4 linked regions of the Homo sapiens genome follow. The protein of the gene in region 1 interacts with the protein of each later gene in a biochemical or structural test. Each region holds a gene or a part of one and is shown on either strand. Other genes may lie near its edges. The genes, in order: PRKCQ, CARD11, HSF1 and GLRX3.

What was found.
Region 2: of the proteins of PRKCQ (region 1) and CARD11, one has a biochemical effect on the other in vitro, tested with the Homo sapiens proteins (2 studies listed by BioGRID).
Region 3: of the proteins of PRKCQ (region 1) and HSF1, one has a biochemical effect on the other in vitro, tested with the Homo sapiens proteins (one study listed by IntAct).
Region 4: the proteins of PRKCQ (region 1) and GLRX3 form a complex in vitro, tested with the Homo sapiens proteins (one study listed by BioGRID).

Annotation. Positions count from the first base shown.
Region 1 is NC_000010.11:6,570,268-6,577,291, forward strand, and holds part of PRKCQ (protein kinase C theta type), read right to left. Parts: intron 1-7,024. UniProt on the Homo sapiens protein: Calcium-independent, phospholipid- and diacylglycerol (DAG)-dependent serine/threonine-protein kinase that mediates non-redundant functions in T-cell receptor (TCR) signaling, including T-cells activation, proliferation, differentiation and survival, by mediating activation of multiple transcription factors such as NF-kappa-B, JUN, NFATC1 and NFATC2.
Region 2 is NC_000007.14:2,935,857-2,942,880, forward strand, and holds part of CARD11 (caspase recruitment domain-containing protein 11), read right to left. Parts: intron 4,073-7,024; coding exon 3,893-4,072; intron 2,976-3,892; coding exon 2,823-2,975; intron 2,177-2,822; coding exon 2,051-2,176; intron 1,379-2,050; coding exon 1,181-1,378; intron 1-1,180. UniProt on the Homo sapiens protein: Adapter protein that plays a key role in adaptive immune response by transducing the activation of NF-kappa-B downstream of T-cell receptor (TCR) and B-cell receptor (BCR) engagement.
Region 3 is NC_000008.11:144,287,127-144,294,614, forward strand, and holds the start of HSF1 (heat shock factor protein 1), read left to right. Parts: upstream 1-4,477; 5' UTR 4,478-4,631; coding exon 4,632-4,748; intron 4,749-7,488. Other genes in the region: ribosome biogenesis protein BOP1, read right to left, coding at 1,969-2,178, 4,146-4,244. UniProt on the Homo sapiens protein: Functions as a stress-inducible and DNA-binding transcription factor that plays a central role in the transcriptional activation of the heat shock response (HSR), leading to the expression of a large class of molecular chaperones, heat shock proteins (HSPs), that protect cells from cellular insult damage.
Region 4 is NC_000010.11:130,160,381-130,167,404, reverse strand, and holds part of GLRX3 (glutaredoxin-3), read right to left. Parts: intron 6,610-7,024; coding exon 6,408-6,609; intron 899-6,407; coding exon 726-898; intron 487-725; coding exon 425-486; intron 1-424. UniProt on the Homo sapiens protein: Together with BOLA2, acts as a cytosolic iron-sulfur (Fe-S) cluster assembly factor that facilitates [2Fe-2S] cluster insertion into a subset of cytosolic proteins.

The sequences.
Region 1 (7,024 bases):
GGAAGCAAAGGCAGCAAGTGTAGACAACAATTTGAGGAGTTTGATTGTGAAGAGAAGCAAGACAAGGAAGTAGCTGGAGGAAGGTATAAAAGGATATATATTCTTTTTTTCACAGAAGGAAGGGATTTAAGCGCACTTAATACAGAGAGAATGGGGCCAGAAATGAGGGAGAGAAGGAAAATGCAGGTGACAGGGAAGATAAGAGATTGAGATTCCCAAGAACAAGAAAGAAATGGATTCCAGGGCCCCAGGGGAGGTGAGCCTCAGACAGGAACTAAGGGGCTTCTTTTTTTTTTTTTTTTTCTAAGACAGACTCTTGCTCTGTCACCCAGGCTGGAGTGCAATGGGGCAATCTCGGCTCACTGCAACCTCTGTCTCCTGGGTTCAAGCGATTCTCCTGCCTCAGCCTCCCGAGTAGCTGGGATTACAGGTATGCGCCAGCACGCCTGGCTAATTTTTGTATTTTTAGTAGAGACGGGGTTTCACCGTGTTGGCCAGGATGGTCTAAAACTCCTGGCCTCAAGTGATTCACCCACCTTGGCCTCCCAAAGTGCTTGGATTACAGATGTGAGCCACTGTGCCTGGCTGGAACTGAGGGGTTTCTTTCGTTGTGAAAGAAAAGAAGGATGAGAGGATGGATTCAGATAAAGTGAGGCGTGCAGCCCTGTGATCCCCAGGTGGGGGCAGTTCTGAATCGGGAAACTTGTACTTTCTCAGGGAAGCAGGAGGCAAGACAGCTGCTGAGTGCGAGGGGACGGCGGAGGCAGGAGCAGCTGTGGAGAAGCTGCCGTGGGAAGGAAGATCATTGGCCAGGGAAACGTCTGGGAGCTGGGGAAGACAGAGATCCTAGATGGAGTGGGAAGTCACAGAGCTACGGCATCCTGAATTTGCAGAGCGGCGTGTTTTCCGGGAGAACTCATCAGCCTATGTGTAGACACTGGAAAAAGCAGACAGTTGGATTTAGCTGTGATCCCAGTGACCACAGAGGGGGCAAAGAAAGTGCATCATCTCACACAACATCACCAGGCGGTCCTTCCCCAGCAGCAAGGGAAACGCTTTAGTGGAGGGACAGTGGCCAAGTTTATATTTGTCAATGTCAAGCTGAAAGCTCTCTAGTCTGTATAATGAACACTATTTCTTCCTAACCTGTCTTGCTCTTTATGAAACTGATGGGTATATTTCAAAGTTTATAACCTTCCTAACAAACCAGGGACATGGTTGTTATTACATACTCCCCTTAAGAAAATATCTTCCCTTGATAGGTGGGGTGGCTCACACCTGTAATCCCAGCACTTTGGGAGGCCAAGGCAGGAGGATCACTTGAGGCCAGGATTTCAAGTCTAGCCTGGCCAACATGGTGAAACCCTGTCTCTACTAAAAACATAAAAATTAACCAGGTGTGGTGGTGCATGCCTGTAGTCCTAGCTACTCTCGAGGCTGACACAATAATTGCTTGAGCCTGGGAGGCAGATGTTGCAGTGAGCCGAGATTGAGTCACAGCACTCCAACCTGAGCAACAGAACAAGACCCTGCCTCAAAAACAAACAAACAAACAAACCAACAAACAAACCAAGAAACAAACAAACAGGAACCAGGTGTGGTCCTTCCCTAAACAGCCACCTAACTAACAAACTTTGGGAACACAGTCCCTGGAGGTATGGAAAGAATACCACCACATCAGAAGCCAAGAGATCAGGGGTCAGCGCTAGTAATTTAATCTGTGACCCTAGATCAAGTTTCTTAACCTGCACACCTCAGCTGGCTTCTCTGTAAGCTGTGAGACCCACCCAACATATGGGGCTTTCTGAATGACTGATTCCCGCGATCCAGGCCCAGGGCATGACCAACGACTGCCTTCCCATCGCTCCCTCTTCCTTCTAGCCCCTGAGCTCATCTGATTCTATGACTTAAAGGAATGGTATAGAAAACTAAATGCCATAGGTATGTAATTTTCTTTAATTTTTATTTTTATTTTAAGTTCTGGGATACAGGTGCAGGACGTGCAGGTTTGTTACATGGGTAAACGTGCCATGGTGGTTTGCTGCACCTATCATCCCATCACCTAGGTATTAAGCCCCACATGCATTAGCTACTTTTCCTAATGCTCTCCCTCCCTCCAATCCCACCTCCCGACAGGCCCCAGTGTGTGTTGTTCCCCTCCCTGTGTCCACATGTTCTCATTATTCAGCTCCCACTTATAAGTGAGAACATAAGGTGTCCAGTTTTCTGCTCCTGTGTTAGTTTGCTGAGGATGATGGCTTCCAGCTCTATCCATGTCCCTGCAAAGGACAGGGATCTCATTCCTTTTTATGGCTACATAGTATTCTATGGTGTGTATGTACATTTTCTTAATCCAGACTACCATTGGTGGGCATTTGGGTTGATGCCATGTCTTTGCTATTGTGAATAGTGCTGTAATGAACATACGTGTGCATGTATCTTTATAACAGAATGGTTTATATTCCTTTGGATATATGCCCAGTAACAGGAGTGCTGAGTCAAACGGTATTTCTGGTTCTAGATCTTTGAGGAATTGCCACACCATCTTCCACAATGGTTGGACTAATTTACATTCCCACCACCAAGAGTGTAAAAGCGTTCCTATTTCTCTGCAACTTTGCCAGCACCTGTTGTTTCTTGATTTTTTAATAATCACCATTCTGACTTGCAGGAGATGGTAACTGATTGTGGTTTTGATTTGCATTTCTCTAATGATCAGTGATATTGAGGGTTTTTTTTCCATGTTTGTTGGCTGCATGAATGTCTTCTTTTAGGTACGAACAGATTTAATGTGTCCCAAACCAAATGATACAGTTTCATGAAATAATTACCCTTCCTACATGAAATGCATCTTAATATTTTCTGTTTTATTCTATTTCATGCTTGTTATCACCCCCAAAATTAATGTCATTGCCCACTAGTAGACTGTGTCTTGGAGTTTGAAAAACTGTGTAGAAGGCCTGCTTTTGTATAGCTAAAACATATCAGTGAAAACAGAACGGAAAATGTTGAAGCTTATGCCCTAAAAATGCTGAACACAGCTGAGATGAACTTCTCTCAAAACGACAAGAACAACAACATTTCTGCTTACTTTCAGGACAGACTTGGCTCACCTCTGAACCCCTGTCCTTTTGGCTAATTCCCATACATCTTCCATCCCCACCCGCGATACCTTGTCCTCTGAAAGCCTTTCCTGAACCTCCGAATCAGGACTTGGTTCCCTTCTACATGTTCTCAAAGCACCCAAGCAATCATCTACATATAGTGCTTAGCACAGCAAACGGCCGATAGTGACAAGTCAATACATGTTAGAATATATTGCCATAGTTTGTTTACTTTTTGATTTTTCCAATAGATTGTACGCTTATTAGGAATTCTTGCCCACAGGGAAAAAATTTCAGGATGACAAGGATTCTGCTTCTGCAGATATTTAAACCACCAGATAGAAATTTTTTTCTTTTAACACTTAGCCGCAGTCCTTTAGGTGTTACAAGGTTAAAAAAAGAAAAACCCAAAAGATGTGTTCTTGATATCAGCTAACACTCCAGTTAAAGGCGAAAAGAGCTAGGCCAGGTGTGGTGGCTCATGTCTTTAATCTCAGCACTCTGGGAGGCCAAGGCGGGCAGATCACTTGAGCCCAGGAGTTAGAGACTAGCCTGGGCAACATGACAAAACACCATCTCTACAAAGTGCACAAACTAGCCAGGCCATGGTGGCATGCAACTGTAGTCCCAGCTACTCAGGAGGCTGAGGCCGGAGGATCCCTTGAGCCTCAGAGGCGGAGGCTGCTGTGAGCTGAGATCGTGCCACTGCACTCCAGCCTGGGCGACAGAGCAAGACCCCGTAAAAAAAAATGCAAAGAGCCAAAGAGCAGACCCCTGGCTGTCTTGTTGTCTTTCCCTCCTAGTTGTTCATGAATTAAGTGCCCAGTGAGGAGACAGCTGCCAACGTATAGGTGAGTTTGCAGTGCAAGCCGAGTGCTGTGAGTTCATGGGCAGGTAAAACTCTCTGAAACGCTGGAGAGAACCTGAATGGCACTTGTATACATTGGTAGATAAAGCATTTAAAGGGTTCCTCCTGTTCTTAGAAAAGGATCAAACTCCTTCGTATGACTTAACGCAGGACAACTCTACGGGACAGTCTGCCCAGGACAATCTGGGTTTGTACCTGTTACCCAAGCTTAGTGATTAATAACGTGCTCTTTCACTCTATAAACAGTCCCCATCTGGAGGATAACGTATATGGTTCACCTGCTTACAGGTCCTATGTGATCTGGCACAGCTGACTCCTCCAGCTCCACCCAGCAATAGCCCACACACTGGCACATGCTCCTTTCTCGCAGCATCACTGCTATCAGAGATCACAATTTTCTTCACTTTGCAAATGGAGAGAATGACACTCCAAGAAGTTCACTGGTTAAGGTCATATGGCAAATTAGGATGGGGAGCAGAGGTTTAAATGGAAGCTGTGATGCTTACTCTGCTCATTTCCACTCATCTGCAAGGCTTAGACTGGACTGCACTGGGATTCCAGACTCACATGCTGCAGGGACATTCTACAAACACTGTTCCTACCTCCCAGAACCCCCATCTGGCTCACTGCCACTTCCCCTTCAGGTCTCAGTTGAGCCGTCACTGACAGCTCTGCGACACCCCAAATCTAGCTGTGCACATAATACCAAGTGTGTCCCCTACTGAAACACACAATCATTCTGCACATATTTGTTCACAACTTGGTATGTGTCAGGCCCTGTTAGAGTGGCTGGGGACACATGTAGGGACAAAATGCCAGCCCTCATGGAGTTTCATGCTAGAGGAAAAAAGAGACAGAAAGGAAACTAGCAAATATAAAACAGAGTTGCATGACATTATAAACTGATACAAAATAGTACAAATATCTCATGAATTCATCACAATTCATTATAATTTCCTATTTGCCTGACCACATCTCCCTGTGGGTTTTGCAGCACGGTGTGTGATCTGAGGCTTGCAACAAAGGCCTGGTGAATTCAATAGCAGTTTCCCTTTCCATTCTCTCCATTGTCCTGGGAACTTGTCCTGCTCTGATAACATACAAAAGATAATTATATCTGTAACTAATCTTCTAAAAAGCATCTGTCCCACACATTCAGGGTTATTAACACTGATGCCATGTTCACTTTATTCTCAACAACTACTCATTTCTGAATCATAAGGTTCCTCATGGAGGTGGAGATAACCCTACCTACCGGGACATTCTGTTTATGTTTTAGGGACTGTCCTTTCCATGGCTTCCCTAGTCCCTCAGGTGCTGTGTGAGTTGTATTTCCTCCATTAATTCTACACTAGAAAAAGGTGTATATGCTCAAGCTGGGATAGGAAATAAACAATGAACTCAGGAGTAGCATCAGCCCAGAGATCCCTGCCATTGGGCATTCAATGATTGGGTAAAAAGTTAACTATCAGCACCTTACACCAATTAGAAAGGCTACTATAAAGAAGATTTTTAAAAAAGCCCAGGTGCGGTGGCTCACGCCTGTAATCTCAGCACTTTGGGAGGCCAAGGTGGGTGGATCATGAGGTCAAGAGATCGAGACCATCTTGGCCAACATGGTGAAACCCCATCTCTACTAAAAATACAAAAGTTAGCTGGGTGTGGCAGCGCGTGCCTATAGTCCCAGCTACTCAGGAGGCTGAGGCAGGAGAATTGCTTGAACCTGGGAGGTAGAGGTTGCAGTGAGCTGAGATCATGCCACTGCACTCCAGCCTGGCGACACAGCGAGACTCCATCTCAAAAAACACAAAACAAAAGACAGCGTTGCTGAGAATGTGGAATAATTGGGACCCTTTCTACCACTGGTGGGAATGTAAAACGGTCCAGCCACTGTGGAAAACAATATGGCAGTTCCTCAAAAAATTAAACATAGAATTACCCTACGACCCCACAATTCTACTGCTGGGTACATACCCCAAAGAATTGAAAGCAGGACCTCAAACAGATATCTGCGTGTTCCTCTTCACGGCAGCATTATTCACAATAATCAAAAGATAGAAGCAACCATCAACAGATACAAGGATAAGCAAAATGTGGTATATCCATAAATGGAATAGTATTCAGACTTAAAAAGGAAGGAAGTCCTGTCCAATGCTGTCACATGGATACAGCTTGAGAACACTATGCTAAGTGAAATAAGACAGTTACAAAAGGATGGATACTGTATTCTGCTTCTGTGAGGTCCCTAGAGCAGTCAGAATCTTAGAGACAGGAAGTAGAAGGGTGGCTGCCAGGGGCTGAGAGGAAAGACGGATGAGGAACGAATGTTCCACGAGGACAGAGTTTCAGTTTTAGGAGATGAGAAGAATCCTGTGGATGGATGATGGCAATGGTTGCAAAACAATGTGAATATACTTAATGTCACTGAACTGTACGCTAGAAAATAGTTAAGAAGTTAAATTTTAAGTTATGTGTATTTTAACCACAATAAAAAAGTTAACTGGTAGGTCACCTGGGACTGCGGTTTAAAGCAAATGCTTGATGGTTAGACTAATCTGGATGGTCCAACTAACCTGACTCTACCACTGACTGGTTATAAGACCTGGACAAGGGGCTCTACCCCTTGAGCCTCAGTTTCCTCATCTGAAAAACTGGAATAATAATAATATCTAATTTATAAAGGCTTTTGGAGGTTAAATGAAGCAGTAATGCCTCTTACATATAAATAAAATTCTGAGTATGATATACAGCACATAAATTCTAAATAATAAAGACTCAAAACCATATTTCATTGGTTTTGTTGATGCTGATTATTATTATTATAATTAATACTATTAGCTTAATTCAAAAGCTAACATCAACCTACAGCAACCTGCAGAAAGATGTCCTGCCAAATACTTGCTAATTTAATCCAGGAGCAAAAATCTATGATTCTGGGCTTGAGTGAGCTTTCCTAATTTTAAAACTCTGATGCTCATTTTGTCCCCAAGAATGTGTTTAGATGACAGAGCAATCAGAATTTGACATGTATAAATGCTTGGCATGTTAAAAT
Region 2 (7,024 bases), on another chromosome or scaffold:
CAGAGGCTGCCCAGCAAGGAAGTGGCCAGGTCAAGCTTGCCTTTTTTTTTTTTGAGATGGAGTCTTGCTCTGTCACCAGGCTGGAGTGCAGTGGCGTGATCTCGGCTCACTGCAACCTCCGCCTCCTGGGCTCAAGCGATTCTCCTGCCTCAGCCTCCCGAGTAGCTGGGACTATGGGCACGCACCACCACGCCTGGCTAATTTTTTTGTATTTTTAGTAGAGACAGGGTTTCACCATGCTGGTCAGGCTGGTCTTGAACTCCTGACCTCGTGATCCACCTGCCTCGACATCCCAAAGTGCTGAGATTACAGGCGTGAACCCTCGCACCTGGCGCCCTGCATCTTCTTATTTATGTTTTTAATTTTAATTTTTTAAATTTTTAAAAATTTTCGCTCTGTTGCCCAGACTGGTCTTGAACTCCTGCCCTAAAGCGATCCTCCCACCTCAGCCTCCCAAAATGCTGAGATTACAGGCATGAGCCACTGTGCCCAGCCCTACCCTGCATCTTCTAACTTCAAAATGAGTGGCTTCCACTCATCACTAAACAGACACAAACACAACAGTAAAAGATGTGGATTATGCTGGGCGTGGGAGGGAACTTCCGGCTTCAAATATATGAAGAGCCAACCGGGCACAGTGGCAAACGGCTGTAATTCCAGCTCTTTGGGAGGCTGAGGCGGGAGGATCGCTTGAGGATAGGAGTTTAAGACCAGCCTGGGAAACAGTGAGACCTCGTCTGTACAAAAAAATTACAAAATTAGTCAGGAATTGTGGTGTGTGCCTTTAGTTCCGCTACCCAGGAGGCTGAAGTGGGAGGACTGCTTGAGCCCAGGAGTTTGAGGCTGCAGTGAGCTGTGATAGTGCCACTGCATTCCAGCCTGGGCGACAGAGTGAGACCCTGTCTCAAAAGCAAAACAAAACTAAACAAAGGACAAGGAGCCATTCATTGCACAGGGAAGCGGCGACTGGTCACAGCCCTCAGTGGGTGCCAGGGGGCACCTGGCTTCTGGTTTGGGGCCCCACAGGGAGGTGGCGACTGGTCACAGCCCTCAGTGGGTGCCAGGGGGCACCTGGCTTCAGGTGTGGGTCTCCACGGGGAGGTGGGGACTGGCCACAGCCCTCAGTGGGCACCAGGGCCCACCTGGCTTCAGGCGTGGGGTCCTGCCCGTCCCGCCCCACCTGGTCCAGGTTGTTGCTGTCCTTGGAGAGGCGCCGCAGCTTGCTCTCCAGGTTGACGATGCAGGCCTCCCGCCGCACCATCTCGATCCTCATCTCGTCGTTCTTCTCCTCCAGCTCGCGGATCTGCTTCCTGTACTTGTCCTTTTCGATTAAGCACTGCGAGTACTGTGTCTGAGCTTCATCTCGGGAGTGGAAGGCCTGCCAGGGAGAAGCGGGACGAAGGCTGCTTTGGGGGTTGCACCCCAGCCAAATCCAGCTGGGCCCAGGGACAGGCATCATCCCAACCCAGGGGCCAGCCACATCGTCTGTGGCTCTCGTCTGCAGTCTGACCCCTGGGCGTGTCAGTCACTACCTTCTTCATTAACGCGATCACAGAGCCGATGGTCCGACCCTTGCTAGTGGCAGGCTCTGTGTTGAGAGCTTTGATGCAGTGTCCCTGGAAGGCCACAGCCTGTCCCTATGAGGCGGTGCTACCGTAATTATCCCCATTTTACAGATGAGGGCACTGAGGTCAGGGGTGGCAGCTTGCCTATGGGCATACACCTTATGAATGACAGGGCTGGATCTGAACCCATCCTCTCACCCGAGAGAACACACAACATTTAAGAACCATGCTTGGTCGTGGGAGCTGCTGGAGCCCAGCTCGGATCCCCCTGCTACCCAAACGCCTGTGACTTCCAAAAAAGCCTTTTGGAATTCATCTTTTAGAATTCATCTTTGGAACAGAAATGGGAAAGATGGATTCAGGAGTGATCCCTGCATTGTCAGTGATGTTGCACTGGACAAAACACTCTGAAGGAGCCGGTGGTCTGGGGTGCGGGCCCCGCTGTGCAGCCTCGCCGCCCTGCACGCTGCAGGTGGTGCCTGTACCTGGTCCCGCTCCCGCTCCACCTCCTCCAGCTGCAGCATGACCGTGTTCATGCGGTGCTTGTACATTTCACAGTCCTTTCCCAGGGTCGAGCACTTGAGCTCCAGGTCCTCCTTCTCCTCCAGGTACTGTGAACCACACAGAGAAATCAATATGCGCATCGAGCAATCAATAGGTCAGGACTGAAAGCTGTTCTCTGCTCGTGCCTTCCCGCCAGCTGGCTGGAGCTGGCCTGTCCCTCCCTAAGCTGGCATGGTCAGGACATGGCCTGCCCTTCTGGGAACCGACTATCTGACTGTTGGGGCTCAAGGTAGGAGACCAATCAACCCAGCATTGTTGTGAACCCACTACAGACCAGGTAACATAGGGGAGGACAATGTGATCTCAGTCAGGAGGGGGACACAGGTGCTAAGCTGGTGCAATAGCTTGTACATGCCCAAGGGTGGCCGGCACATCTGGGATCCTGCAATCCGCAAGGTGTGGGTGAGGCTCTGAGACTCACACCTTGGCAGGTATGTGGGTTCCCCCAATCCCAAGCCCTCACCCTCCCCTCTGCCCACATTGCTCCCACCCCCAGGCCCTCATCTGGTTGATAAACTGCAGCTTCTGCCAGGGGCTGAATACTGGGAGGTACAGGGGATTTATGCCAGGGGTCTGATCTAGTCCCTGGAAAGGAGTGTGGGGTCAGGGAGGTCCTGCTGACACACACCACTGCCCCCTGGTGTGAAGGGGGCCGGCCGAGGGCACCGCTGGGCGGGCGATCCCCACTCCCACCTTGTCTCGCAGCTCCTCTGCCTGGCGGGCCTCCTCCTGCAGGTTGTAGATCCTGTTGACCAGCTCCTGCCTGTCCTCCAGGGCCTCCTTGCGGTCGTGTTCCAAGATGTCCAGGATGGCCTTGTCTGAGTCTGGCAGGCTGCGCTTCCCGGCCTGGGTGGGAGGGAGGAGGTTTCAGAGGGTCAGGGTCGGGGTGGGGAGCCAGGTGGTCCTGGAGGGCAGGGGACAGAAGAACCAGCAACAGATACGGACAGAGCAGAAGGTTTTGTGCCTGGAAGGTAGAGGCAAGAAGAGATGTATGTCCCCTGGGGTCTCTAAGAAGCTTAGCATTTAAGAAGTTTATTGCCTGGAAAGAAGCAGAAAACTGGCTTTTGCTTGGGCGTATCCTGGGCCTTTTGTTCTCCCTGGCGCTTATCGGAGCGCAGAGAAGCAGTTGCTGCACCCGAAACACTTTTTAGATGCTGCCCCTGAAATATCAAGGAATCTGTTCTGGAGAAGCTGGGTTCATCCTCGGCTCTGAAACAGAGCCTCATATACCAGGCAGCCACTCCTGGGGGGACTGTTCTGGAGGGAGCAGGAGGATGCATGTTTTTTTTCTTGCCCTGTAGATATGTTTTGGGATGTCACTCCTCAGCAACTTCCTCCTCTGTGCCCACAAGTGACTCGGCGATGACAAGTGTGGGGAGGCATTTGAGGTTGGAACAAGAGGCACGGAGCTTACAGTTGAGTTTCTTGGAATCTTTAAGGGCACGTAGGTTTCCTAGATGTCCTTGTCTCTTCCCACAGTGCCCAGGGCATTGATTTCCACGTGGTTGGTGATTTTCCTGGAGTGCTTCAAATAAGCACATGTTTTCCCAAGTATGATATCCTATCTCTGACAAATGGGTGGTGGGGGTCACCGCTTTACAGAGGAGGAGACAAAGGTGCCCAAGGATGGCACGCATGCCTGTGATCCTGCAGTCAGCATGGGTGAGGCTTGGGGACTCACACCCTGGCAGGTTCATCGTTTCCCCCAACCCCAAGCCCTCACCCTCCCACTGCCCGCGCTGGCCCCGCCCCCAGGCCCTCACCTGGATGATGGACTGCAGCTCCTGGTTTTTGGTCTTCAGCATTTCATTCTCCCGCTCCAGTTCCAGAACCTGCTCCTTCTTGGGCCGATTTTCAATGTCATTCTTCAGTTTTAGAGACTGATTTCTCTCCAGCTTACATTCCTCCTCCATCTTATTCAACCGGTGCTTTAGCTGATCGATCTGAAATACCCCAAGGGTGCCCAGGGGAGAAGGCAGGTGGCAAGAAACACTCAGAAAAGGCAACGCTTCCCCCGATCCCACTGGGCTGGCAGCATAACCTGAGTTATGCCCCTCTCTCCTTCTTCCACGGGCAGAGAAGGGCTCCAAGAAACCTTCTCCAGTAAAACAAACTGTCATCACCCTGTTGATGGAGAGTTCCTGATTAGTCTATTTAGAATAGCTCCAAAGGGGCTACAGGCCTCAGAGAAAATTCCCTCAACCTTTGTCAGGTGGGACAGGTTATGGATTTTGGGATAAAAGAGATCCAAGTTGGTGTTTCCCACTTCAACGCCCTTCTCTGATGGGTTTCAAATTCTGATCCTCGGAACTCAAGGATTCCCCTGAGGAATCCAGGGGTTACCCAGGGGGAAGGAGGAGATGGTTGACAAGTTGGGGTTCTGGGCATCCACACTGACTTCACATCCCAGAACAGCTCTGCTTGTGTGGTTTGTTCTTCTGGGTTTCACACAAGATTTTATTTGGATAAATAGCACTGTTGCTAAAAAGGAAGAGGAAGAGGAGGAGGAAGAGGAAAAAGAAGAAAAAACAGGAGAAGGAGGAGAAGAAGAAAAGTAGAGGAAGAAGAAGAGGAAGGGGAAGAAGAGAAAAGAGAAGAAGAGGAAGAGAAAGAAGAAGAGGAAGAGGAGGAATGAGAAGGAGAAGGAGAGGAGGAGGAAGAAGAGGAAAAAGAGGAAGAAGAGGAGGGGGAGAAGAAGGAAGAGGAGGAGGAGAGGAGGAGGAGGAAGGAGGAGAGGAAGAGGAAGAGAAAGGGGAAGAAGGAGAAGGAGAAGAAGAAAGAAGAAGAAGGAAGAGGAGGAGGAGAAGAAAGAAGAATAATAGGAAGAAGGAGGAGAAGAAGGAGGAGGAGGAGAGGAAGAGGAGGAGGAGGAGAAGGAGAAGGAAAAGGAGAAGGAGAAGAAGACAGCCTGAAATTCACTGAATTGTAATTTCACAGGATCTCCACCCTAAAGAACCTCCCTAGACTTAGTGGCAGAAAGAGTAGCTTCCTGGAGGAGGCAGCTATTGCATCTGGAAATGAGACAAGTGGAGATGTGCTGATTTTCACACTCAAGAGTTTAGTGTCAGGAACTGGGACCAGCAGAAGACTTCTTCAACCTGTGAGACTAACCTGTGTTCCTCCCCAAACACATCGGCTTTGCTAAAGTATCCCAAACAAGAAGGTTGCATTCGAGGGCTATAAAGAAAGGAGGCACCAAAGGGGAGAGTGTCATTTTTCAAATCTAGTCTTGGAAGGAGAATCATCTCAAGGAATCTGGCAGGTAGAGAGCAGTGGCTTTAGCAAGAAAAGACCAGCTCCTGCACCCCAGTGATTAACCTGAGACGATGAAGAAAGGGGCGTGCAGGAAGCAGCCCGAGGCCAAGAAAACCAGCCAGGGACTCTGCTGGCCAGATGTTCTTCCAAATTCTACTTACACTTTCTCACTATTAATGTATCTCCAGGGAAACATAACACAGGAGGAAGTTCCGGGAGAGAAACTTGTAAGTCTCTGCCACAGGGTAACTTCCCCAAATCCTAGGTAAAAACAGCATAGAAATCTCTCCTGCTCATGCAAAAAAAAAAAAAAAAAAAAAAAGCTCCTCAGCATCTTCAAAGCTTAACCCAAGTGTCCTGTGGTAAGTCCCGGGTCCCACACGAGCAGGCATGGGGCGCTAGCATTGTGGGGTGCTTACAGGGTCAGCCGCTCCGCCAAAGACCTACGGTTCAGTATCCCAGCAATCCTAGGGCACACGTATTACTTTCATTATTGACATCTGCAAATGAGGAAACTGAGGCCAATAGCTAAGTAAGTCGTAAAGCATAAAGCCAGAATTTGAACTCAAAGCTACAGGACTTACAAAGCTCATGCTTCTAACCAAAACACTATTGCCTGCTATGCCACTGACTCAATTCACCTGAATTCCCGGTGGATTGTTTACGGATCTGTCTGCTTCACTAAATTGTAAGTGACCTGAGCACAGCTCACGTTATTTATCCCCATGTCTCCCACAGTGCTTAGCACAGTGCCTCACACGTGGCAGGTGCTTAATAAATATTCTGTGAGTCTATTTTCCATCCAGCAGCCAGAGTGATCCTTCTCAGACATAAATCAATTGTCACTCTTCAGCTCTCAATCCTTCAGAGGGTTCTCATCACAACTAGAATAAATCCCAAAGTTCTTACCATGCCCCCATGATCTGGACCCCGCCATCCCTTCCACTCCCTTCTGCACCATTTGTTTATTTGGCTCTGGCCCCACTGACTCTCCTGCCATTTCTTTTCTCTTTCATTTGTTTCTCTTCCTTCCTTCCTTCCTCCCTCCCTCTTCCTCCCTCCCTCCCTCCCTCTTCCTTCCTCCCTCTTCCTTCCTTCCTCCCTCCCTCCCCTTCCTTACTCCCTCCCTCTTCCTTCCTTCCTCCCTCCCTTCCTCCCTTTCCTTCCTTCCTCCCTTCCTTTCTTCCTTCCTTCCTTCCCTCCCTCCCTTCCTGTCTTTTTCCTTCCTTTTTCTTTCTCTTTCTCTCTCTCTCCCTTCCTTCCTTCCTTCCTTCCTTCTAGTTCTTTCTTTTGACAGGCATGGCTCACTGCAGCCTCGACCTCCCAGGCTCAGGTAATCGTCCTGCCTTATCACCCCTAGTAGCTGGGACTACAGGTGCATACCACCATGCCTGGCTTATTTTTGTAGAGATGGGGTTTTGCCATGTTGCCCATGCTGGTCTCAAACTCCTGGACTGAAGCAATCCTCCCGCCTTGGCCTCCCCAAATGCTGGGATTACAGGTGTGGGCCATCAAGCTCAGCCTTCCTGCTGTTTCTTCAAAAACAAAAACAAAAACAAAAACAAAATGCCCCCTACTTATGGGCTTTGCGAGTGCTTTCCCCTGAGACTTGCATGGTTGGCTCCTTTCATCCCTTCAGA
Region 3 (7,488 bases), on another chromosome or scaffold:
AGCCTCCCGAGTAGCTGGGATTACAGGCACGCGCCACCACGCCCAGCTAATTTTTATATTTTTAGTAGAGACAGGGTTTCACCATGTTAGCCAGGCTGGTCTTGAACTCCTGAGCTCAGGTGATCCATCCACCTTAGCCTCCCAAAGTGCTGGGATTACAGGCGTGAGCCACCACGCCCGCTGAAAGAATTTAATAAAAAAATCATTAACATGTAAATGTGTAAATCCTTAATTTAAAAAGGGACAGAAGACCCAGAAAGATGTACACCAGACCACTAACTGTGCTCACGGGTTAGGTGTGAGGGCCCTGAGTGGGAGCTTCCACCCTACTGAATGGTGCTGCTACAATATCTACATTATTTTCCAGGATGTTTTATCTCATAATTTTTTTTTGAAACAGGGTCTTGCTTGTCACCCAGGCTGGAGTGCAGTGGCTCTATCATAGCTCACTGTGACCTGGATTCCTGGGCTCAGGAGATCCTCCCACTTTGGCCTCTCGAGCTGCTGGGATTACAGGTATGAGCCACTGTGCCTGGCCCAGTATTGTATCATTTTAAAAACTCAAGAAGGGGTAACGTAGTTGTCCATAATCTTACAAACCACTGCCAACACAGCACATCATTTTTTCTCTGTGTATGTTAGTGGTATAATTAAAGCCTGAATTAAGTGTGATTTTAAATCTTTTCTTCCCAGCAAACAAGCCAACCCAACACAGCTAGCACACAATGAACAAGCCATGGTTCCTTGGCTTCTATCACGGGGACCTCTGCCAAGGCCGTAACTTCCAGAACACCGAAACTACTGGGAGAGTAAATCCTTACAAACGATTTCCAGAATGTTTAGAGTAACAAATGCTGGGCTGGGCGCGGTGGCTCACACCTGTAATCCCAGCACTTTGGGAGGCCAAGGCAGGCAGATCACTTGAGGTCAGGAGTTCGAGACCAGCCTGGCCAACATGGTGAAACCCCGTCACTACTAAACATACAAAAAAAAATTAGCCGAGCCTGGTAGTGGGCACCTGTAATCCCAGCTACTCAGGAGGCTGAGACAGGAGAATTGTTTGAACCCAGGAGGTGGAAGATGCAGTGAGCCAAGATCGCCCCACTGCACTCCAGCCTGGGCAACAGAGCAAGACTCTGTCTTAGAAAAAAAAAAAAAAAATAGGCCGGGCGTGGTGGCTCACCTGAGGTCAGGAAATCGAGACCAGCCTGGCCAACACGGCAAAACCCTGTCTCTACTAAAAGTACAAAAATTAGCCGGGCGTGATGGCATGTACCTGTAATCCCAGCTACTAGAGAGGCTGAGGCAGGAGAATTACTTGAACCCAGGGGATGGAGGTTGCAGTGAGCCAAGATCACACCACTGCACTCCAGCCTGGGCGACAGAGTGAGACTCTGTCTCAAAAAAATAAAAAATAAAAAAAAATAACAAATGCTGTGTTTTAGTTAAATTATGCTTTTCTCCTGTTGTTCTCAATAAGAGTAGGGTGCATCCTCCCCCACCATCGCTGCAACAGGTACAATGTTAAACCCTCTACCCGTCGGCTGCTCAGGCCCCTGAAGCCCTGTGGGGTCAGGCCCAGCTGGGTTCCGTTGGGGCCCCCATGCCGCCTGCTTGAGCCCTGCCATGCTGCTCAGCTCCCTCCTCAGCTGGGTCCTGCCACTGGATTCCAAGCAGTAAAATCCCCACCTCAAGGAAACCCAACCTGTTGCCAGGAGGGTTGCCCGAGCATCGTCTGACGGGGAAGGGCCTAGGCATGTGGATTTTCAGAGTTCCTGGGAACGGCACGCAACTGGGGATGGAAACCAGCGTCCTAGAGCCCAAGCGTGCCCCAGGTGCAGTGAAGGAGGGACGCCGGCCTTGGGGTTCTGAGGGACGGTGGAGAAGGCAGTACAGTGGCAGTCTCAGAAAGCCCAAGGCCACCTGCACATGGGGGACAGCCCTCGAGGGGGCTCCTCGCTCACCCACCTGCACCTGCTCCTCAGTGGTCTTTTTAATCCCACTGTGGCCCTCGTCATCAAGGGCTCCGTCCTCTCCCTCCTCGTCGCCTTCGTCATCATCCTCACTGCTGTCACTGCCGGAATCTTCCAGGCCTGAGAACACACTTTCCTCGCTGTCGGAGACGCCAGAATCGCTGCCGGTGCTGTGGCTGAGAGGAGAGGTGCAGAGGAGGGGGGGCTGCAAGGAAACACTGGGTTGGTGACAACTGCCCCTCCAGGCATGGGGCACTGAACACTGCAGGGAGAGCTGCCTCTCGCCCCTCCAGCCACCCACCAGCAGCTCCATGTGGCCTCCAGGACCACACCCCTCCAGTCACAAACTTCCACCAAAAGCATCCACCCAACCTGAGCCTTCCTCATCTTCTACCTCCACTGACAAGACAGCCTCTTGCCTTTGCCATCGACATTTTAATTCCTAGCACCTCACAGGGAAGGGGCTTTTCAAGGACAACCTCCTCCTCTTGGAGCTCAGCTCTCATCGCAAAACTAACACTGCTCTCTACCACCCACTGACACTCCGGAGGCCCTGTGGGGTCAGGCTGGGCTGGACTCCACTGGGTCCCTCAGACAGCCTGCCTGAGCCCTCTCCACACCTCACCCTGGCATCCAAGGCCCCAGAGCCAAGAGGTCACTAGAAAAGGGGCTGGGGGCTGGAAGAGAAATGGGTCCCCAAAGGGCTTTTACCACCTGAAGCAGACGCCTCCTCATTTAACCAGATTGGGACCAACGATTGATCAGTAAATTGAAAGGATTGGCTGAAGAGTCACAGGAATGATAGAGACTCTAACCGCAACCACGCACCAACCCACCCACTCCTCTCTCTGAGCAGGACCACAGCTGCCTCTGAGCAGAGCCCTGCTGGCTGCGTGACACCGGCACACACAGTGTTCGGGTCCTTCACTGGCCTTAAAGGGTGGAACAAGAACTTAGACTCTTAGGAAGCAGTTGAAGGCCAGGCACAGTGGCTCACTCCTGTAATCCCAACACTTTGGGAGGCTGAGGCGGGTGGATCACCTGAGGTCAGGAGTTCAAGACCAGCCTGGCCAACATGGTGAAACCATCTCTACTAAAAATACAAAAATTAGCTGGTGGTGGCGGGCACCTCTAATCCCAGCTACTCAGGAGGCTGAGTTAGCCAGGAGGTGGAAGCTGCAGTGAGCCAAGACTGCACCACTGCACTCTAGCCTGGGCAACAGAGCCAGGCTCTGTCTCAAAAAAAAAAAAAAGAAAAAAGAAAGAAAAGGAAAAGAAAAGAAAAAGGAAGCAGTTGAATGCAGAATTCTAGATTTTACTGTTTTCCTAATAGTTTACAAGTCTCACTTAAGGTACGACCTGCATGTATTAGCTATTGCATACCGAGTGTTCACACAATGCCTCTCTCACACAGAGTCATGATGTGTCTTGGTATTCAGTCGGCTACACAATCACAATAACTAGTGGAAATGGCATCCGTGGCCTGGGCGCAAACAACTGGCTCCTGAGGACCGTTTAGTCCAAGGGTGGAAGTCGCAGAACCTGGCGCCTAGAGTGGCCTGCGGGCCATTCAGCCCATGGGAGCCAGGATGAGTTGAATTCGCTTCACAAAGCAATGGGGCAGTTTCAACAACCCAGCGCGGCCGCGGCCGAGGGGGCTGTGAGGGGCTGGCTGTCCATCCCCTCCACCACCCAATTTGATGATCCCCACAACCAAGACAGGGCTGAGCTAGCAGAGAGCAACAGTGAGTTCTAATACAGCAAATGCAGCAGACACTGGGTTCTATTCAGGTTTTCTTATTCTCATGTCTATCCCATGAGCATAAAAACGCAATTAACTAGCGTATACGTAGGTTAAGCATTTACTGGGAGCGCAAGCCGAGCCCTTTTATTGGCAGGATGCACAAATGGAACGGCTGGAGAGGCTGCTGCAAGGGGCGCCCCGTCCCCACTCCCCGCTCCCCCGTTTCTTTGCTTCCCGGACGCCGTCCTTTACCCCGCAGTCCGCTCTGCCTGAGACCCCCCGATAGAGGAGCTGCACCCACGCCCAAGACCGATTCACTGGGCGCGGGCGCCCAGGTGACAGAAGCCGGGCCCACCCGCCCCAGCGCGGCCACGTGCCCGCCGGGCCCTCTAGGGACGCGCCCCGCCGCCCCGCATCGCCACAGTCACCTCCGGCTCGGGCTCAGGCTCCAGTTCGGGCTCAGACCGCCGCTTCTCCGGCCGCACGCTCGGCGCCGCCGTGCGCCCCGCACCCCGCGAACCCGCCATGCCCCACCGCGCGCCGGCCGCCACCCGCACAGCCGCTTCCGACAGCGACCGGGCCGCGTGCGCAGGAGGACGCGCCCCGCCCAGCCCGGCCCCGATTGGCGGGTGGAGGGAAGGGGGTGGGACCAACACGCGCAGGCGCGCGGCTGGGCCGGGGACCAGGGCGGGGTCGGGGCCTGCGTGCTCGCGCCGGGGGTGACGCGGGAGGGCGGCAGCGGCGGCGGCGGGAGCGCGCCCGTTGCAAGATGGCGGCGGCCATGCTGGGCCCCGGGGCTGTGTGTGCGCAGCGGGCGGCGGCGCGGCCCGGAAGGCTGGCGCGGCGACGGCGTTAGCCCGGCCCTCGGCCCCTCTTTGCGGCCGCTCCCTCCGCCTATTCCCTCCTTGCTCGAGATGGATCTGCCCGTGGGCCCCGGCGCGGCGGGGCCCAGCAACGTCCCGGCCTTCCTGACCAAGCTGTGGACCCTCGTGAGCGACCCGGACACCGACGCGCTCATCTGCTGGAGCCCGGTGAGGGCAGCGCGCGGGCGCGGGGCCCGTGGGGACCGGGAGGGAGCAGGGCCGCGGCGGACGGCGCGGGAGGGCTGCGGGGAGGGGCCCTGCCGCACTTCAGCTTACGCGCGGTGAGCCTGCCCTGCCCCCGCCAGAGAAGGGCGGCGGGTCCCGAGCCTGCTCAGACCCAGAGCCTTAAGTTGGGAAAGCGGCTACGAGACCCACACTCGGTTCAACCCCTGCCCCAGCGAAGTTTCCCTGGGATGGGGAGAATGGGGCGTCTCTTGTATTGGGCTTCTGCTAACTGTTGGGCGGTTGCGGAAGTGTCCGCGCTTAGGGCAAGCACCCGGCTTCGCCAGCGGACGCTATGCCCCAGAGGACATCGGCGTCCCCAGGGGACAGCCTACGGGGTGCTGGGTCGGCAACTATTAGGAGAAAGTCAGGACTTGGCACGTGAAGTGGAGGGCGTTGCTGTAGTGGAACAGGAAAGGCAGTGGAAACAGTAAGACGTCATGAAGCTTCAGGTTGATCTCAAGCCCGTTTCCGAATCCCAAATCTGGGTTTCCCAAGAGGAGTTTTGTTTTTCATTCCTTATGGGGCATCTTTATTCGTGTTTCTGTCTTCAGTTGCCTGGCAGCAGGCTTGTTTACATGGTCCGACCCTGCAAGACCGGACAGCTCCGGTTTGCAGAAGTAAATCAGTGATTGTCTGGAGTTGGAGATCAGAATCTGCTGTTCACATCCCGGCTGTGACGTCGTGTCCGGTGAGGGGCAGAGCCACCGCCTGCGGCTGGCAAGTGATGACCTGAAGAAGGGCCACACTGGCCGAGTGGGGTGACTCTTGCTTGTAATCCCAGCACTTTGGGAGGCGGAGGCGGGTGGATCACTTGAGGCCAGGAGTTCGAGACCAGCCCGGACAATATGGCAAAACCCCAGCTCTACTAAAAATACAAAAAATTTGCCGGGCGTGGTGGTGCTTGCCTGTGGTCTTAGCTACTTGGGAGGCTGAGATAGGAGGACTCCCTGGACCTGGGAGGCAGAGGTTGCACTGAACCAAGATCCCGCCACTGCAGCCTGGCAAAGAGTGAGACCCTGTCTAAGAAAAAAAAGAAAAAAAAGAAAGGCCACTGATCATTGGGAGCTTTTGGAGGCACCGTGACCGGCAGGGTGCCACCAAGCATGTGTGGCCTCCCAGGAGCTAAGACCCCAGAGTTCTTCAGGCTCTGCTGAGTGCCTCCCATTTGCACAGCCTCTTTATGCTGTTAGGAATGAAGAAAAGTCTAAACTGAAGCTGCCCCAGGCAGGAGGCCAGGTTTTCTGCTTCTTGGGTTTACTGAGGCTCTGCTTTACCTACAGAGTGTTTGGAAATAAAGAGAAGACTGGAAATCTTTGCTCTTGTTAGAAACACTTTGTGTTTGTCCCGCTGACACCTCTGTGTTGGCCTTCCCATCCCCAGGTCCCATTAAGGCACAGTGCACCTTCCTGGAGGCTGGCTTCATTTCACCATCTCTTCATTCTAGACCTTGGATTCTTGTGCAAAGGAAATACTCCCATGTTTCTGTCTTCTTTTATCCGTCTTTTTCTTTTTTCTTTTTTTTTTTTTTAGACCGAGTCTTGCTCTGTCACCCAGGTTGGAGTGCAGTGGTGCGATCTCGGCTCACTGCGACCTCCACCTCCCGGGTTCAAGCAATTCTGCCTCAGCCTCCCGAGTAGCCAGGACTACAGGTGCGTGCTGCCACACCCGGCTGATTGTTGTATTTTTAGTAGAGACGGGGTTTCACCACATTGGACAGGCTGGTCTGGAACTCCTGACCTCAAGTTATCCACCCGCCTTGGCCTCCCAAAGTGCTGGGATTACTGGTGTGAGCCACTGCACCCAGCCCTTCTTCTTTTTCTTATTCCCCTTAATCCTCAGAAGTTAAGGGGAATAACTCCCCCATTGGGGGAGGGGCATCCGCGATTATCTGGGATATTCTAAGCTTAATCCTACTAGCGTGATCTGTCCTGTCCCGTAATCTGCTTGCTGTTTCTGCTTAAAGATTATGAGGCATGTGGGTTAGGGCCCAGTGTACCCTTTTTTGGGACCGAGGCATGTTCTGGGCAGGGCTTTTGAGCAAGGAAGGCAGGTGTGATGAGGCCCGTGGCCAGCCTCCACTCCACTCACAGGTGCACCACCTGTGGATCTGTTCTCCCTGGGGAGGGATGGGGAGCCAACTGGAATGTGAGTGTTTGGTTCCACCTGGTCAGTATGAAGTGGCAATGGTTGGTGCAGGACGTAGCACTGGGGGCGAGCATGGCAATGAGACAGAAACACTGACTTAAAACTGGAAGGAAGCCCTTCTCCAGGCCGCGCAGGGGGCTGCAGAGCTTTCCGGCGCTGGCTGCCTGGCCTGGAGAAAGGAGGTGATCATCCCATCCTGTGACTTTGAGAGCACTCACACAAGCCCTGAGGACTCCCTGTCAGCAGAGTCCCAACAGGGCACCCTCCCACAAATCTACTGCCCAGGCCCAGCTGGCTCTCGGAGGCCTTGAGAAGGCCCTGGTGCTCTTGCTCTCTGCTGCCTTCTCTGGGAGAGTCTCCTTCTGGCTCAGAGTCTTACCACCATTCTGCCAAGAAAAACCCTCCCTATTTGACACAAGAAGATGAGGCAGAATCACAGGCATGGTGACTAACTCTCAAGGCTGAATAACCTGGGGGAGACCGAGGCCCAGAAACTGGCCAGTAACTTTACTGAGCCTGGCCAGGAATGGGACCAGGT
Region 4 (7,024 bases), about 120 Mb from region 1:
TTTTTCACACTCACCACTTGTCACTCAGTGCTCTGGCGTTGGGGCAGCACCCGCAGCAGTCACCAAGGCTGCACCCAGTAAAACACGAGTGTGCTGAGGTTACGCCAAGGAGCAGTGACAAAACAACTGGACCCTGGCTCTGAAATGCAGAGAGGTAAGCAAAACTTGGTTGTTCCACAGAAACAATGACATTTCTATAAAAGCAAAGCAGATCCTCCACATGATCACTAAGTTGGTGCTAAAATTTCTCCAATACAAATTAGATTTGCCAAAGTTTGAATGGCTAATGTGACTAAACAATTATGACGTCTGGCATACCAAATCCTTGATTTCTACACAGAAAGAGCAATGCAAAACCTGAGGACTTTAAAATATTTTTAATATATTAAATGATAGGCTATTTGAAACCTTCTAAAACACTTACCTTTCCTCTAATTTGGGAGCTTTGGGACAAATTGTATCTAGTTCTTCAGATGCTTCTAGCTCCTAAAATAAGCACACATACCAGTTTTATGAAAAAAATTATTATAACATAAATCTCCTTGATCATACCATAACACAGATTATTGATCAATCAACTAATCAGAAATACTGTGTATTCATTGCAGGTTCTTATTAGTAAATATAGATTCATAAGAAATTTGTATCTTAGATTTATCACAACATTTTAAAAAGTATGCTCTAAATGGAATTTCTTTACAAAGCACAGACTTCTCAATTCTAACCTTAATTATATCAAGTCCTCCTATGAGCTCTCCAGAAACATAGAGCTGAGGATAGGTAGGCCAACTGGAATAGGCTTTGAGTCCCTGTCGAACCTCTTCATCTGAGAAGATATCAAAACTGCTAAACTGAATATTATGTTTGTGAAGAATTTCCACCATCTGCTTGCTGAAACCTGTACACAAAAAAAGAAATAAAGCACTTAACTTCTCTCTCCCAAAACACATACACATGATAATACATTAGTTCAGCGTACATATCATCTAAAAGACATAGACGCCTGCCTTATTTTGCTGGTGATTTAATTAGCATGGCTGAATAATATACAAAGAGAAAATAAATTCCTGGATCCCCTTATTTGACCTTGAACCATATCACACACTCAGATATGACTTAACTTTTTGACACAACTGTGACTACTGAAAAAAAAAAAAAAAGTGGTGTGTGTATTTATTAAAGTTATTCTTCAATATCATGGACATTTTTTGTCACAGGAGAAATAGCACTAGCCAAAAAGCAGAGACCTGGGGGTGATGGTGCACACCTGTAATCCCAGAGACTGGGGAAACTGAGGCAACAGGCTCACTTGAGCCCAGAAGTCTGAGGCTGGAGCGACCTATGAGATTGTCACTGCACTCCAGCCTCCAGTTTGAGTGATAAAGCAAGACCTTGTCTTTAAACAAAACCAGAAATCTGAATCTGACACCTGCTCCCTCCACCCACCAAGGTGACACATGATGAGGCCATGGGTGGCCTCCGCTCAGCACTTTCCTACTAATCAGGAGACTGACCTGATGCTCTGACAGTCCCTCCCAGCCTTTCTGTTATGAATCTATGAGAATCAATTCTGGGCAGATGAAAAAATTCTACAATTGTTATTTTTAACTACTACTTGACTATACTTAAAACCCAATGCTGTTGCATTTCTACTGCCATTTTACTACTTCCTGAGTTCCCACTTCAGTAGTTCTCAATCTTCACTATCTCTAAGTAGGATAAATTAGAAATCAAGAAGGCATGTGTTCTCCTGTAGTCTAAAATACACACAGTACATTGAATTTTAAAGCTATCTTCTCTGTTGTTATATATGAACCATCAATAGATTGACGGTATTCTTTCTCATCTCATGTCATAACTTGACAGTTTCTTTTTTAAAACTATTTACATTCCCTAAAGTATGTAATGTAATTTTTTTACTACACTATAGCGACAATTTTATGTTCCATGATTTTATTATACTTTTGTGACACATTTTTATTCTGTACTTTTTTGACATCATCTTATTATGACATTATAACTGAAGAATAAGAGTGTGAATATCAGTCTTTTATAAACCTATTAGCCTAGTCTGAAAAAAAAAGTATTTTTCTTTCCATAAGCTAATTCTTCTCCATTGTTCCCAATACTATGTAGGGCCCTACTCTTTCACGCCTCATTCTTCTTCTCAAACACAGTTGTAATTCACTGGAAAAGAACCTATTCTTCAGATTCAAAATTTCTATAAGACTTAGCAGTGTCAGCAATTGTTTTTAAATAAAATCAAACCATAAAATTCAATATAAGATTAATTGCAAGAATGGGCTTTACTGATGTCACCCAAAATCATATTTACTATTAAAACATGGATCTACAAGTGAGCTCTAAACATTTTCCAAATCTGCAGTTTATTGAGATGAAGCACTAGTATTTATTTGTATAGCATATAAGTTGCTTTTCCTACATCTGAAGTGTTAAGTTCATGTACAGCCTGAAGTAAAACACTGATTCTGAAATTTTTTTATTCATCTGGGAGTTCATTAGTAAACAGCTAACGGCTGATTGCTGATGGTTATTCTGTTGCCAATATATTAACTCATTTTTACTGTAACTGGCTGAGAAGAAGCTTTATTTTAGCTTTAGGCAATTACATGCAGACTAGAAAGATTGATTGGTAGTGTTTCATTTTTAAGAGTTAAAGTGGCAGACTAGAAATGTTACGCTTAAGGATAAGATGGCAAGAAGGCTTTATTCTAGTAACAAAATATTTACACACCTTTTTTTAAGAAAAATGCATGCATGCAATAAAAATATTTAAATGTAGAAAAGTAATGTTTAACTGCCACAGAATCCCCATTTCCACCCCCAGTCATTTCTACTCATGACATGAATAGGTGCCTAACACCGCATCTCATCACTACCTAACAATAAACCCTAAAAAACATCTCTGAAACCTGATTCTGTGGCTGATTCAAAAGTAAGAGCCCGGCTGGATGACTCTCACTGCAGAAGGAATATCTGACTATGCCTCAAATACCTTTTGCTTTGCTAAAAGCTTTGTTAACTGAAATAGTTATAAGAATTCCCAAATAATTAACCTGCTCAAGGATTTAAGATTCTGTTTAAGATGACATATACCTCAGTGCTTCTGGAAACTCTTCCTAAAACAAGCATTTTCCCATCTTCATGAGGAGCACAGAGTAAGGACAATCCAATTCTTTTCAACTGAGACCCTATCTACACGTCAGGCTCATAACACACCATACAATTCTGCAGGTAGAGCCCACATGAAGGATAAGAAGATGGAGACATGACCTGTGCAGGGGTTAGGCTGAGTCCAGTGGGGCTCCAGGAGAGACCCTAAAAATGGCTTTCAAGGTTTTCTAGATATAAAATTTAAATGTTATTCATTCATGTTTTTCTGATTAGCAGAAAGCAAGGTGGGGACAAACTAATCAAAAAACAAACATCAAAATACTCCGCAGTGGGAGTTCAGTGGTGTTAGCAGAGATAGCACTTTCAAAGCTAATTTGGTGCAAAATAAGGAAAGAGCAGCCACGTGCGTGTTCACAAGATGAGATGGCCAGTGCTTTTATAAAGGGAGCTTTGCCTACGCCCTTCTCTAAAATGCCAGAAGAAGAGCAAAAACAATGCTCCACTAACCAGGCTCAGAAAGGAACAGCAGAGGGTCGAGGTGACTTATGTTCCCATAAGAAAACAGTTTAAAAATATTTTCCAATTAATCCTAAGTATTTTATTAAAGAACAGCAACATTCTTAAATGATCTATTTACTATATGTGACAGAAAGACATGAAACAGAAAATATCAGGAAACAGAAAAACCCACTGAAAATGTAGTTATAAAAATTATATAGAAGTACTTTAAAAGAAGAAACTGTAACCATTCAACCATATGTATCTCAAAATATTTATTGTCTTTTATTAATTAAATAACTATAATACTACGTTTTCAGATGGCTCTGAAATGTGTTTTGTTTTGTTTTGAGACAGAGTTTCACTCTGTCACCCATACTGGAGTGCAGTGGCTCGATCTCGGCTCACTGCAACCTCTGCCTCCCAGGTTCAAGCAATTCTCCTGCCTCAGCCTCCCAAGTGGCTGGAATTACAGGACTCCACCATGCCCAGCTAATTTTTGTATTTTTAGTAGAGACGGGGTTTCGCCATGTTGGCCAGGCTGGTCTCGAACTCCTGATCTCAAGCGATCCGCCCACCTCAGCCTCCCAATGTGCTGGGATTACAGGCATGAGCCACCACGCCCAGCCCTGAAATATTTCAAAGCTTCTTTTTTATTCTGTTATTTGTACAGTCTTCCAAATCTCACTCCATTATAATAAACATAATTTAAATAAGTTTAATATAAATATAAAAATGCTAGCAGTATATTTTAAATTCAGTTTAATAAAGTAAAAGGTAAGCAGAAAAATTAAAATGTCTAAGTTTCTCTCTAATTTACTTGAATAATCATACAATATCTACACTGAAAAGGCCCTCCAAGATTGGCTCCAACAGCCAATCTTGTTCCCAACAGCACTAGAAGGAATTAAAGGCACAAGGAGGGTACCTGACTTGTCCCCAAAGTTGCTAAGGCCGCAGGGGTGGGCCTGAGGCTCGCCTGGCATGACACCCAGTGCAGCACACTTCCCAGGACATCCTTCTCCTCTGAGCACTCCTTCCCCAAGCTTCAGTGTTGCCACCTGCCTTTTCATTAGGTTTATCATTCAGAAAAGACTGAGACTGCTGCTGTTCAACCCCAAAGGAGAGAATACTGTAGAGATTTCACTGTAGGTGTGCTTCACCCACATTTCACAGCCAGTTCTACTGTACCTGAGATCTGAATGAAGGTGCTGAATACAATCCATTCAACTGAAGTGGTAAGTTCCCATTTAGTGGCCACCGCACAAAGTACAAGAAATAATTTTCATGTTTCATGGAAGAAGGTGAATGTGAACCATTTGCAACCCCCGTTAAAAACAAAATAACAAACGCAACAGAGACTATCTGTTGCTACCTTTAGTTTAGTACAGACTAAGTTAGCTTTGCAATACACAAATAGCAGGCATTATCTGACACATAAATACTGGCAGGGAAATTTTTTAGGCAGAACTAAGAGATACTTTTAAGACAGAATTCATGGTGGCTCACGCCTATAATCCCAGCAGCACTTTGGGAGGCCAAGGCAGGCGGATCACCTGAGGTCAGGAGTTTGACACCAGCCTGACCAACATGGACAAACCCTATCTCTACTAAAAATACAAAAAAATTAGCCGGGCATGGTGGTGGACACCTGTAATCCCAGCTACTCGGGAGGCTGAGACAGGAGAATCGCTTGACCCCTAGTAGACAGAGGTTCCGTCGCACTGAGATCGTGCCATTGCACTCCAACCTGGGCAACAAGAGCGAAATTCCATCTCGAAAAAATAAGAATTCATCATGAAACTTTATTTTTAAAACTAGACATTATCATAAGCTAATATGTAATTTAATAACCCTACAGGGAAGAATTTAGAATCAAATTCACACTAGAAGCTTGGCTATCTTTATAAAGTCACTCTGGACATGCTGTAATCATATCAAGAGCATACTCAATGTTACTGCCCCTATCTTAATAAAGTCCCTCCTGTGTAGTTGATACAAATACTCTTAGAGTCTCAACAGCATCATCAAATGGCATTAAATGCTCAATTATGCAGCATACTAATGTTGTACTAGGCACAGTAAAAAGAAAATAACATAAACCCACTACCAGAGGGGTCAAATAACTCTAAAACTTACTTAAGGACAAAATTATAAGCATCCATGTGTACAGAAAATAAGAGTGACTACAAGCCAAGAATTCGGAATCTTTCCATTACCAGCAGCTATAAACTGGAAATGACAGCAATGCAGGAAGAGAATCATTAGACAGTGATGACACAGGGGAGGCAAAAGCACACAGGCTGGACACAAAAACACTGAAAAATTCCGCAAATTTTTTAATTGCTGAATCTGAACTAGGTGAAAAACAGGAGGCTGCCAAGAAAGAAAAAATAACTGTTAACAGCAAAAGTAGATAAACAGGCAAAAGAGACAGCAATATGGTAGTTGGAACCTAATCCTAACTCTGCTTACCAGGTGACCTTGGGCAAGTCACCTCTATCTTTGAGTCTGAGGACTTCAGTATAAAACAAAAATCTGAATTAGATGAGTTCTGAGACCCCTTTTGGTTCCAACATGCTGAGTCCATAATGCAAACTAATTCTTATATAGTGTCATTGGGAATTATAACCTTTTTGATTTTCTAAAAGTATGTGAACACAAGTATAAGATGTATGGTATAGCATCCTTGGAAACAGGATGCCCATCTCAACCATACCCCATTCTGGGAAAGCACCCATTTTGTTTATATTATGTTAAAGGCAGCTTCTTACCACAGCGTGGTTCTTGAGGAGTTCCTTTCATAAACAGCATGCAGGGGGCAGCATGAGTCAATTTCTTCAAGCGAAGGTTGAGATCTTCTTTAAGATGTTCATTAGCGCTGGGTAGGAAGGAGCCACTAGATGCATGTCGCTGAACTTTTTTGGTCAACTCTGGGGCATGTGCACCATCTAATCGGTCGATTTTCTGAGAATTCTAAAGTTTAAAAAGTTATTTAGAATACATGCAGCATTCCATAATAATGACATTGTTATAGCAGATTTTTAAAGGGGACAACAGTATTACCGGAGATGTAAAAAAAGAAACCCTCATTGCCAATTGCCTGCACTGCATCTCAATTTTAGAAATACATAATTTTTTTCTTTTCTCAGAAACACACTGAGAAAACACTGCAACATCTCAAAGTCAAATCAGGTCAGTCTAACATAATACAAAAAAGACTGCCCCCACATTGGCTGGAATGAATCTATTACTAAGTATAAATGAGGTATTTGGGGAACTACGATGACACCCATGGGTGCCTGGAAGCACAGGTGTGCACCTGCTTCCTAAAAGTCATTCATCAAACCAGAACCAGCCAGAGATTCCATTATGTCCAGGCACATGCTCT